2 separate regions of the Homo sapiens genome follow, and region 1 is linked to region 2. The links come from fine-mapping of genetic effects on plasma protein levels. A gene starts in region 2. The other region holds a variant in brackets. All regions are shown on one strand. Distances are between the middles of the regions.

Region 1 (5,384 bases), 80 kb before region 2:
CTGGATATTCTCAGGAACGAAGCCCACCTCTCGTCTTCTCAGTCCTGCCTCTGTCTTGCATCACAAGTGGCCACATGCACACAGATGGAAGTGCTTCTCAATCTCTAATTGCATTTGAGTCACAAAGGCCTGAGGCCCTGAGCAGGGGCCAGTGTTACTGAGGTCAGAGGGAGGTGATCTCTGTCAGATTCTAAAGCCTATGTTTGCAGCAAGCATCATTGCTCTCTTACTGCCCCAGAAGGTTCAGAAGAAAAATAATACAGAGAATATAAACTTGTCAGGGCTTTATGAACCTGGTCAAGAAAATTAGTACATGTAGAAAAGTTTCCTGGAAAGAAGCTCAAACAATGAGGTCAGTTTTTAAGAGATTTTGTTTCTTTCTCCAAAACTATCCAAGCCCTGCTGTCTCTGTAGAATACATTATTTTATCGCCTTATGTAAATCATTATTTGTTGGCTTAAATGACATGGAGCGAGTGGAAATACTAAAAATACTTTGTAACTTAGCTCTAAGGAATTGCGGATAAAATACTGGCTTCTCAGCTTGGGTTCTGGCTCTAGCCCTATTGTCAACAAGCCACCGTGGGTAAGTCACTTAACCTCACTATGCCTGATTTTACTCATCTAGAAAACCACAGTAATAGTACAGGCCCTGCAGGCCCGGAAAAAAAAAATGAGGTATGGATCAAATATAAAAATATATCAGAAAGATGTATTTTGAAAATCATACAATGGATTTATCTAGGAATCTGTGTATATGTAAGGTGATAAAACTTACCACTAATTTAAAGGAAAATATTCTTTTAATCTCAAGGGAATTAAATACTGCAAATCTTACGTGATGTTTTCGGCCATTATTTACAAAAACGTTTCGCTATTGGGAACAAGAAAACAAAGAGAAATACTTTTAGAAAACTACTTTTCTCAGGGGAACTTCCATAATGTGAGTTTCTGCCTTGCCTAATTTTACACTAAAGCTAAAAGAAGAAACGGTAAAGTTATGTAAGAAGCAAGTTTACAATTGAATTATATGCAACCTCTGTTAAATATAATTTTAAATAATTTAAAACAAAATTTCCACCATTCAGTAGTTAAGCGCCATGTCTGTATGAGAGCACTGAAAATAACTTGCTTATTATGTATATGTCCAGAGATATAATCTTAAAATTGCCATACATAATAGCATATAGTGTGGTTTTAATTATACAGTTTCCTAGTAGAAAGGCAGGATAAAATATTGCCCCTTTTTACAAAGTTAATTATTAATCAGATAGTGTCTTATCTCTGCTTAATAATTTTATTTTTTAAAGATTACCTTTTACTGCTCCCTTGAAATTGAAGTTTCCAAAAAAGAAAATTAAACCATCTAGCGACCTTCTGAATATTACTCCAAATATTCACCTCCTCTGTCAGTTTCTCATGTACATTCACACATCTTTTTCAGTATCACCTGACATTTATTTTATCCATTAAGATCTTATTAATCAGGTCTCACTGGGCAATGTATCCCAGGTAAATGAATTTTATTTAAATCTAAAACTCATTTTCTTAACATTTTTTAATGATTTTGTATGAAAATATTTATTCCTTATTCATTGAGTCATGAGTATATGATAGACTCTTTTTAAATATTATGTCTAACTATTCAAAACCTTGACTCTTTGGTTTTGCTATCCCATTTTTACTGGGGCTGTAGAATCTTGTCCAAAGACATCCACACAGGACAGCACCATCAAAGACTGCAGTGCTAGCCACATGTGGCTATTGGGTACTGGAAATGTGGCTAGTGCAACCCAAGAACTGAATTTTTGATATTATTTAAGTTTACTTGCCTTAAATTTTATTTAAAAACTAATGCTTGCATCAGTTATTAGAAAATTTTAAGCGTGTTTGGATGAATTTGGGCACATAGTTACATTTTCAACAGTAAATTTTATATAGTCTAAGAACAGATCAAACATTTCAGGTGATAATTTAGTACCAAAATTGAGATACTTTTGTTGTAAGTGTAAACATACATTAGATTCAAAGATTCAATACCAAAATATTGTAAAACACTTCATAAATATTTTAAAATATTGATTATATATTCATATAAAATTTGGCATATATTAAATTAAAGAAAATATATTATTCAAAGTAATTTCACTTACTTCATTTTACTTAATGTGTCTATTATAAATTACGTATATGGCCAGGCATGGTGGCTCACACCTGTAATCCTGGCACTTTGGGAGGCCGATGTGGGAAGATCACTTAGGCCGGGAGTCCAAGACTAGCCTAGGCAATATGGTGAAACCCTGTCTCTACTAAAAATACAAAAATTAGCCCAGCATGGTGGCAGGTGCCTATAATCCCAGCTGCTTGGGAGGCTGACACGTGAGAATTGCTTGAACCCTGGAGCTGGAGGTTGCAGTGAGCTGAGATTGTGCCACTGCAGTCCAGGCTGGGTGACAGAAAGAGACCCAGTTGAAAGAAAGAAAAAGAAAGAAAGAGAAGGAAGGAAGGAAGAAAGAAAGAAAGGAAGGAAGGAAGGAAGGAAGGAAGGAAGGAAGGAAGGAAGGAAGGAAGGAAGGGGAGAGAGAAAGAAAGAGAAAGAAAGAAAGAAAAAGAAAAGAAAAAGAAGGAAAGAAAGAAAAGGAAGAAAGGGAAGGCAGGGAAGGCAGAGAAGGCGGGGAAGGCAGGGAAAAGAAAAATAAATTATTTATTGGAGGGCACTGATATAAAATATAGCTGACTTTAAAGTAAAATCTAGTCTGTCTCTCTCCCAAGTTGGCTATTTCCATCAATAGGTGACTGATTCTCAGGGTATGAATCATTAGCATTGACCGTTTCTCTCGTGGTTAAACAGAAATATTAAATATGGTCAAATTTTAGAATAAACCAGGAACATCATTATAACATAA[A/T]TTGTATTCTGTGCTACTTTCAATACCACTAGGGTATTTTTAACTTGTATTAAGGAGCTCCAAACTGTTTTGGGTTTGTGGTTCTTAAATCCAATTATAAAATTAAATTTGTTTCTAATTTTTTCCCCTTGTTCTCAGACTATGAATTGCCTCCCCTCCCCTAGCCACACTACAGTCATACATTCCCTAACACCTCCTACTTCCCTGCTTTCGTTATGTGACTGTGGGACTTACTTTCTGTGGACCAGGAAGTCAACTAAAGTCTGCACTATTATCCAACCATTTGTCTGATAGATTCTCGGAGAAGAGCAGAAAGACATAGCATAATGGCCTTTCGATAAATATTTCAGCTGCTTAGAGAGCTTTTATTCTCTTTTTTTTTTTCTCTCAACATTCACTTTTGGCATGGTTCTAGATACTCCATTTGGCAAAGTAAGAGAATTTAGGGGTTATCATTTCTGTTTTTCATATTTTGGCTCAGAAGTAAGTACACATTAATTAATTCTACAGCTGCTACTATCTACTAAAAATGGCAAAAGGCATCACACAACAAAAATTCTGACATATAGTTTATTAAATTAAGAATGAAAATATTCCATCTGCCAAATCTTTTATTTCTGAATGGAAGTCCAGTAGAGAACATTCAGAAAAACATCGTGAAGGGCTCATCGTTGTAGATGACTTCAAGACAACAGCCAAGATGGTGGACTCTGTTGTTCATACATTTCTATTTTATAATAGGACTCCTGTTGACTTTATAAAACTAATTTTCATTAGATTACAGAGTGTCTTCTGAGGTCTGCTTAGAAGGTTTAAGTAGGTATTTTCCCGGTGGTATCAGTAATCAAAGTTAACGTACCATTTTTAGTCTAATTACTTCTTTTGTGCTTTAATATTTTGTTTTGCATTGTTTGGAGTCTTTTTTGTTTGTTTTCGTGTAAGAATATCTATGAATCATGACGATCGACAAAAATTTAGAATTTCAATAGATAAATTTAATTATAGAGTTTTGAGTTTTAGAAACCTTAGAGTGGATTACAAAGAAACAAAATAAAAGTCCTATTAACATTTTGACCTTTATCAAAAGTCTAACTCCATTCTACCACAAGCTCACAGTCCAACGTGTGCATCATTAAGAGGACAAGCAGAATTTCTGAGACCATAAGCATTTTTTATGGTTTATTACATTTAAAAATAGCCTTTCACATTCTACCATATTTAGTGGGGATGTTCAACTAAAATCAGCTGAAGAAAAATTTAAGTCCTTTTTCAAACAGAAAACTGAGAACTGAAATGGTAACACAGAATACCGAGAATTGACATTGCCCAGTTATTTGTGCAATCTAATCACTACTGCCCTAATAACAACTCTAACCCTGTTTCTTTCAAATGTACCTGTTGAAAATCAGTAACAATTTGGCTCTTATTCCTTTTGTTCCCCTATCCCCAGTGTCTTTTGAGTATAAATTTGAGTTTTTAATGTTACCAGTGAGCTCTACTTGGAAGAAATGTGAAATTTATTTGAAAGCTGTATATTTAGAGTGGTTCACGATGTTTTAGGGGTATAGTCAAGACAATCCTAAACAAAAAGAACAAAGCTGGAGGCATCATGCTACCTGACTTCAAACTATACTACAAGGCTACAGTAACTAAAACAGCATGGTGCTGGTACCAAAACAGATATATACACCAATGGAACAGAACAGAGGCCTCAGAAATAACACCACACATCTACAATCATCTGATCTTCGACAAACCTAACAAAAACAAGCAATGGGGAAAGGATTCCCTACTTAATAAATGGTGGTGGGAAAACTGGCTAGCCATATGCAGAAATCATATACTGGACCTGTTCCATACACTTATACAAAAATTAACTCAAGATTCATTTGAGACTTAAACATAAAACCTAAAGCCACAAAAACCCTAGAAGAAAACCTAGGCAATACCATTCAGGACATAGGCATGGGCAAAGACTTCATGACTAAAACACCAAAAGCAATTGCAACAAAAGCCAAAATTGACAAATGGGATCTAATTAAACTAGAGAGCTTCTGCAGAGCAAAAGAAACTATCATCAGCATGAACAGGCAACATAGAGAATGGGAGAAAATTTTTGCAATCTATCCATCTGACAAAGGTCTAATATCCGGACTCTACAGGGAACTTAAACAAATTTACAAGAAAACAAACAACCCCATCAAAAAGTGGGTGAAGGACATGAACAGACATTTCTTAAAAGAAGACATTTATGTGGCCAATAAACATGAAAAAAAGCTCTTCATCACTGGTCATTAGAGAAATGCAAATCAAAACTGCAATGAGGTACCATCTCATGCCAGTTAGAATGGCAGTCATTAAAAAGTTAGGAAACAACAGATGCTGGCAAGGATGTGGAGAAATAGGAACACTTTTACACTGTTGGTGGGAATGTATATTATTAGTTCAACCATTGTAGAAGACAGAGTAGCAATTCATC
Region 2 (5,384 bases):
AAGCAAGAAGGTAGGGAATAACAAATGAGAAATAAAGTAGATGGTCAGAATGGATATTAGAGAATGTACAATGGATATATTATCATCATTATTTTGCCATCCAAAACTATCATCTCCCATATCTACTTGGGAGGCTGAGGCAGGAGAATAGCTTGAACCCAGGGGTTGCAGTGAGCTGACATGGTGCCACTGTACTCTAACTGCACTCCAGCATGGGAGACAGAGCGAGACTCCATCTCAAACAAACAAACACACACACACACACACACACACACACACACACAGACACAAAACACAAAGAACAAAACCTATCATCAAAGAAAACAAAAACTCAATATGTAAAAGAGGTGTTATTCTGGCTGGGGCCCTGCTACCTCTCTTTCTCCACTGACTGAGCAATGCTTTTTGAATAACCAGATTTAGAAGACCTGTTGTAAAATAGGTCTTGCATGAAGCTAGTGATGAACTCACAAACCAGTGAAAAGGACTTTCTCAACCTTTAAAATCTGCTAGTGGCAAAAAGTGTTTCCAGGGGGTAAGGAAGAAAAAAAACCAAAAAGTCCTGAGCAACTATTCGTTTTTACCTTAAGACATTCTGTGTGTGTGTGTGTGTGTGTGTGTGTGTGTGTGTGTGTGTGTGTGTGTGTGTGTGTGTGTTTTAAGTAGAGACGGGGTTTCACCAACGTTTGAAAATATTTATCATGGTCTCCCTAAGATGGACGGTGTTAGCTAGGATGGTCTCGATCTCCTGACCTCATGATCCACCCGCCTCGGCCTCCCAAAGTGCTGGGATTACAGGCGTGAGCCACCGTGCCCGACCAACCTTAAGACAAACAACTACTGCATGATTGTTTTTGGAGACCTTTTTTTTATTCAAATAAACTTTTTGCCAGCATTTTCTGACTCAAAGTATAGCAGCAGGAAGATAACACTTTTGTGAGAAAAAAGTTTGAATACAGCTTACTGCTGTATTTAAATGAAACAGTAGTTAATATGATATTAATATATTTTGGATATATTTTGAGTTTGTTGATTTTCCAGTCTTCACCCGCTGCTAGGCCTGTGGGTGTTGGAAATGCCTGTGGTTCTCAATTTTGTTTGCCTATTAGAATCCTGATGTCCAAGCCTTACTCCAGTTAGACCAGTTAAGCCAGAAAGGCAGAAGGTGTACTCAAGCATCTGTTTTTTCAAAATCTCCTTTTGTGATGCCAAGTGCAATCAAAGTTTAGAATCATTGTAATAGCAAATGGTTGAATGGAAACTCCACCTTCTATTCAAATCCTACCCCAGTCTGCCCTTAGCTGTTCCCTTTTCACAGATCTATCAATGTCTGAAGATAACTATGGCAGGCTGATCAAATATGCATAGAGCAGGAAGACAGCAAGAGAGTGATACACTGACCATGTTCCAAATCACAAAACATCTCAACAGGCTAGATCATGGACCGAGTCTGATGGGATGGAATTTCATAAAGATACATAAAAAAGCATCTTGGATACAGTAAACTTAACTCCACAAATACAGGGGAATTTAGACGTGACTAAGTAGCAGTACATATGAAAAATTATTGAGGAATTTTGTTGACTTTAAGGGTAGTGTGAGTCAACACTGTGATTTGGCTGCCAGAAAATAAACTCAATCCAAGGCTGTATCAACAAAGGCATACTGTCCATTCTGCATGCTCATTACAGCACTAAGTACCGAGCCATGTTCTCAACCGCATACTTCATGAACATGGAAAGCTAACAGTATGGTTAAGGGGGGAAACTGGAACTGTCATCTTGGGGAATAAAAGGGATATTTAGCCAGGAGTAAAGTTAGCTTAGGGAGACCATGATAAATATTTTCAAAATATTTGAAGGACTCAGTTGTGGAAGTGAGATTAGATTTATTGTGTAAAACTCCAGGAGTCAAAAGCAATAGAGAGATAGAAGGAAATGCTTTTCAGCAGTGTTGCTCATCAATAAAGGGAGTGAACAGCCACACAGAATGGAAGGTTCCCTGTCCTTTGAGATATTTAAGCCTTCAAGTAAATTATGGGTGAGGAGTTTCAAATCTAGAGTTGAACCAGATAAGAAAGTCTCTTCTTCCGGTAAGATATTATGGACCTATAACATCTGTGTACTTAAAAGTAGATTGGGAGTGAAAGGCAGACTTTTGATGTTCTGTACACTGTTGAAACCCCTTAGCGTGGTCCTCTGTAACCTGCTCACCCTGCCCCAAGGAGGCAGCTAGCCAATGCCACCAGCCCAACGGAAACCCCAGTGCTTTTCCAATGGGGAAATGCAGTCACTTTTCTTTGGATGCTACACATCCTTTCTGGAATATGTCTCACACACATCTCTCTTTATCACCCCCTTTTTCAAGTAAACCAACTTCTTGCAGAAGCTGACAATGTGTCTCTTTACTCTCCACGAAGATTCTGGCCCTTCTCTTCACCTGTCAGAAGTTTAGGATTCCAAAGGGATCATTAGCATCCATCCCAACAGCCTGCACTGCATCCTGAGAACTGCGGTTCTTGGATCATCAGGCAACTTTCAACTACACAGACCAAGGGAGAGAGGGGACCCCTCCGAGGTCCCATAGGGTTCTCTGACATAGTGATGACCTTTTCTTGGAACTTTTACAACCCCCAGGACATTTCCAAACTTTGAGCAGGGCTCTGGGGGCCAGGCGTGCGGGAGGGAGGACAAGAACTCGGGAGTGGCCGAGGATAAAGCGGGGGCTCCCTCCACCCCACGGTGCCCAGTTTCTCCCCGCTGCACGTGGTCCAGGGTGGTCGCATCACCTCTAAAGCCGGTCCCGCCAACCGCCAGCCCCGGGACTGAACTTGCCCCTCCGGCCGCCCGCTCCCCGCAGGGGACAGGGGCGGGGAGGGAGAGATCCAGAGGGGGGCCGGGGGAGGTGGGGCCGCCGGGGAGGAGGCGAGGGAAACGGGGAGCTCCAGGGAGACGGCTTCCGAGGGAGAGTGAGAGGGGAGGGCAGCCCGGGCTCGGCACGCTCCCTCCCTCGGCCGCTTTCTCTCACATAAGCGCAGGCAGAGGGCGCGTCAGTCATGCCCTGCCCCTGCGCCCGCCGCCGCCGCCGCCGCCGCTCAGCCCGGCGCGCTCTGGAGGATCCTGCGCCGCGGCGCTCCCGGGCCCCGCCGCCGCCAGCCGCCCCGCCGCCCTCCTCCCGCCCCCGGCACCGCCGCCAGCGCCCCCGCCGCAGCGCCCGCGGCCCGGCTCCTCTCACTTCGGGGAAGGGGAGGGAGGAGGGGGACGAGGGCTCTGGCGGGTTTGGAGGGGCTGAACATCGCGGGGTGTTCTGGTGTCCCCCGCCCCGCCTCTCCAAAAAGCTACACCGACGCGGACCGCGGCGGCGTCCTCCCTCGCCCTCGCTTCACCTCGCGGGCTCCGAATGCGGGGAGCTCGGATGTCCGGTTTCCTGTGAGGCTTTTACCTGACACCCGCCGCCTTTCCCCGGCACTGGCTGGGAGGGCGCCCTGCAAAGTTGGGAACGCGGAGCCCCGGACCCGCTCCCGCCGCCTCCGGCTCGCCCAGGGGGGGTCGCCGGGAGGAGCCCGGGGGAGAGGGACCAGGAGGGGCCCGCGGCCTCGCAGGGGCGCCCGCGCCCCCACCCCTGCCCCCGCCAGCGGACCGGTCCCCCACCCCCGGTCCTTCCACCATGCACTTGCTGGGCTTCTTCTCTGTGGCGTGTTCTCTGCTCGCCGCTGCGCTGCTCCCGGGTCCTCGCGAGGCGCCCGCCGCCGCCGCCGCCTTCGAGTCCGGACTCGACCTCTCGGACGCGGAGCCCGACGCGGGCGAGGCCACGGTAGGTCTGCGTTAGGGTTTGCGGAGAACCCGAGAGTTTGCGTTAGGGTCTGCGGCGGACCCGAGAACCTGCGCGGGGGAAAGTGTGTGTGCTTTAAGCTTGTGTACGTGGGATCCAAAGTTACTGAGCTCAGTGCACGCTGCTTTGGAGAAAAATCTTCTTCTTTTTAAATAGAAAGTTGTTACTAGAGAGGCAAGCAAGTTACACGAGTGAAGGGCCCGGAGAGGTGCCCAGTGAGAGATCCCGAAATCTATTTCAGACTGGTTTCCTCTGGGGCAACCAAGGGGTCTTGAACCCTGCCCAGTCAGCGGGGCTCTGGAGAGTATGAGTTCATTTTGGTCGGGAAATGCTCGTTTCTTTCCCCAGCTGATTCATGGGACTCCAAACAGATTCTGGGACACTGGTGATCAGTCAACCCAGCCTTACTTTCCTGGAGTGTTCATAGTCTGCAGAGCACCAGGCGCTGTGAGCGACTTTAGAAAAAAAGTGTCAGGGACTTTAGTAACCAGGCTCCAGAGCTTTCAGAGTTCACTTGAAGTTGGTCAGACTTGAGATGTAACGGGAGATTAGAGTCAGTTAGATCACAATCAAGCAATGCAAGGCTTGTTTCAACTTTATAAGCTCTTCATTCCTAAAATCTGGTCATGAGATACTGCAAACTAAGTTTTTTTTTTTCTTGTTTGGGTTTTTTGTTTGTTTTGTTTTCTTTTAAATAAGAGGTGTTTAATCCTTTGCCTGAAAATGTTGCCAAAATACTTTTGAGGCATCCTGATTTTGAAAAAGGATTTGTGTGTGTTCCTACTTCTTACTGGCTCTTCCAAAAGAGTATATCTTTATCTAAAAAGTTCATACCTGCCATAACCATATAGAGTATGCTTAAGAGAGTTCCTAAAGAAGTTATATTCGACATTTCAGTTCAAACACTTGCAGTACCCCTTGCTGGAACTATACTGCGGTAGTTTATTTCAACTGGTGGCAAGTGGAGAGGTACCTGTGGTGTGTTACAGTCAACTTTAATTTGACTGTTGATTAACACATACACAATGTGTAGAAAATAGCCTTATATTTTGAAATATTTTATTTATATTTATATTTTGAAATACACTTAAAGATTGAGAAGACTAATTTTTGGAAATCAAACTACCTTTGCATTTAAATTTTGGGAAAACATTAAAATGTTGGAATGTGTAATAATTTAATATAGGGGTTAAAGGAATGCCTCTTGAGTAAAAACAATATACATGAAATAGAACAGACTGCATTCTGTGAATCACAAAAATAATTTTCAGTGCCTATACTTACATTGCCGTAACTATAGTGATGAAAATATCTTTCTGTTCTTAAATACCGCAGAAATGTAATAATCGGCTCAATAACGCTTCTGATAATTTGAGTCCTTGATTTTGCAGTACCTATTTGCTATTTCTGCAAAGTCAAAACTAGTAAAAGTATGATTTAGTAAGGCAACATCTCTGTATTGGTTACGGTCACTTACTTTGGTTTACAGTAAGAAAATGTGCAGTAGAGAGTAAAATGAGAAACATTCCCTGATAAGCCAATAGCCTGTATGA

Evidence for each region. PIP is the chance, under the fine-mapping model, that this variant and not a neighbour inherited with it causes the effect. Sun 2018 read protein levels with aptamers (SomaScan).
Region 1: its variant is fine-mapped to the plasma level of the VEGFC protein (Sun 2018, PIP 0.95).

The regions. Positions count from the first base shown.
Region 1 is chr4:176,870,377-176,875,760 of GRCh38, reverse strand. LINC02509 (long intergenic non-protein coding RNA 2509) reads right to left here and starts at 59. Exons shown (of 2, transcript NR_149104.1): 1 at 1-59. The variant A/T (reference allele first, on the strand shown) is at 2,906.
Region 2 is chr4:176,790,594-176,795,977 of GRCh38, reverse strand. It overlaps VEGFC (vascular endothelial growth factor C), which reads left to right and starts at 3,056. Exons shown (of 7, transcript NM_005429.5): 1 at 3,056-3,813. The coding sequence starts at 3,667.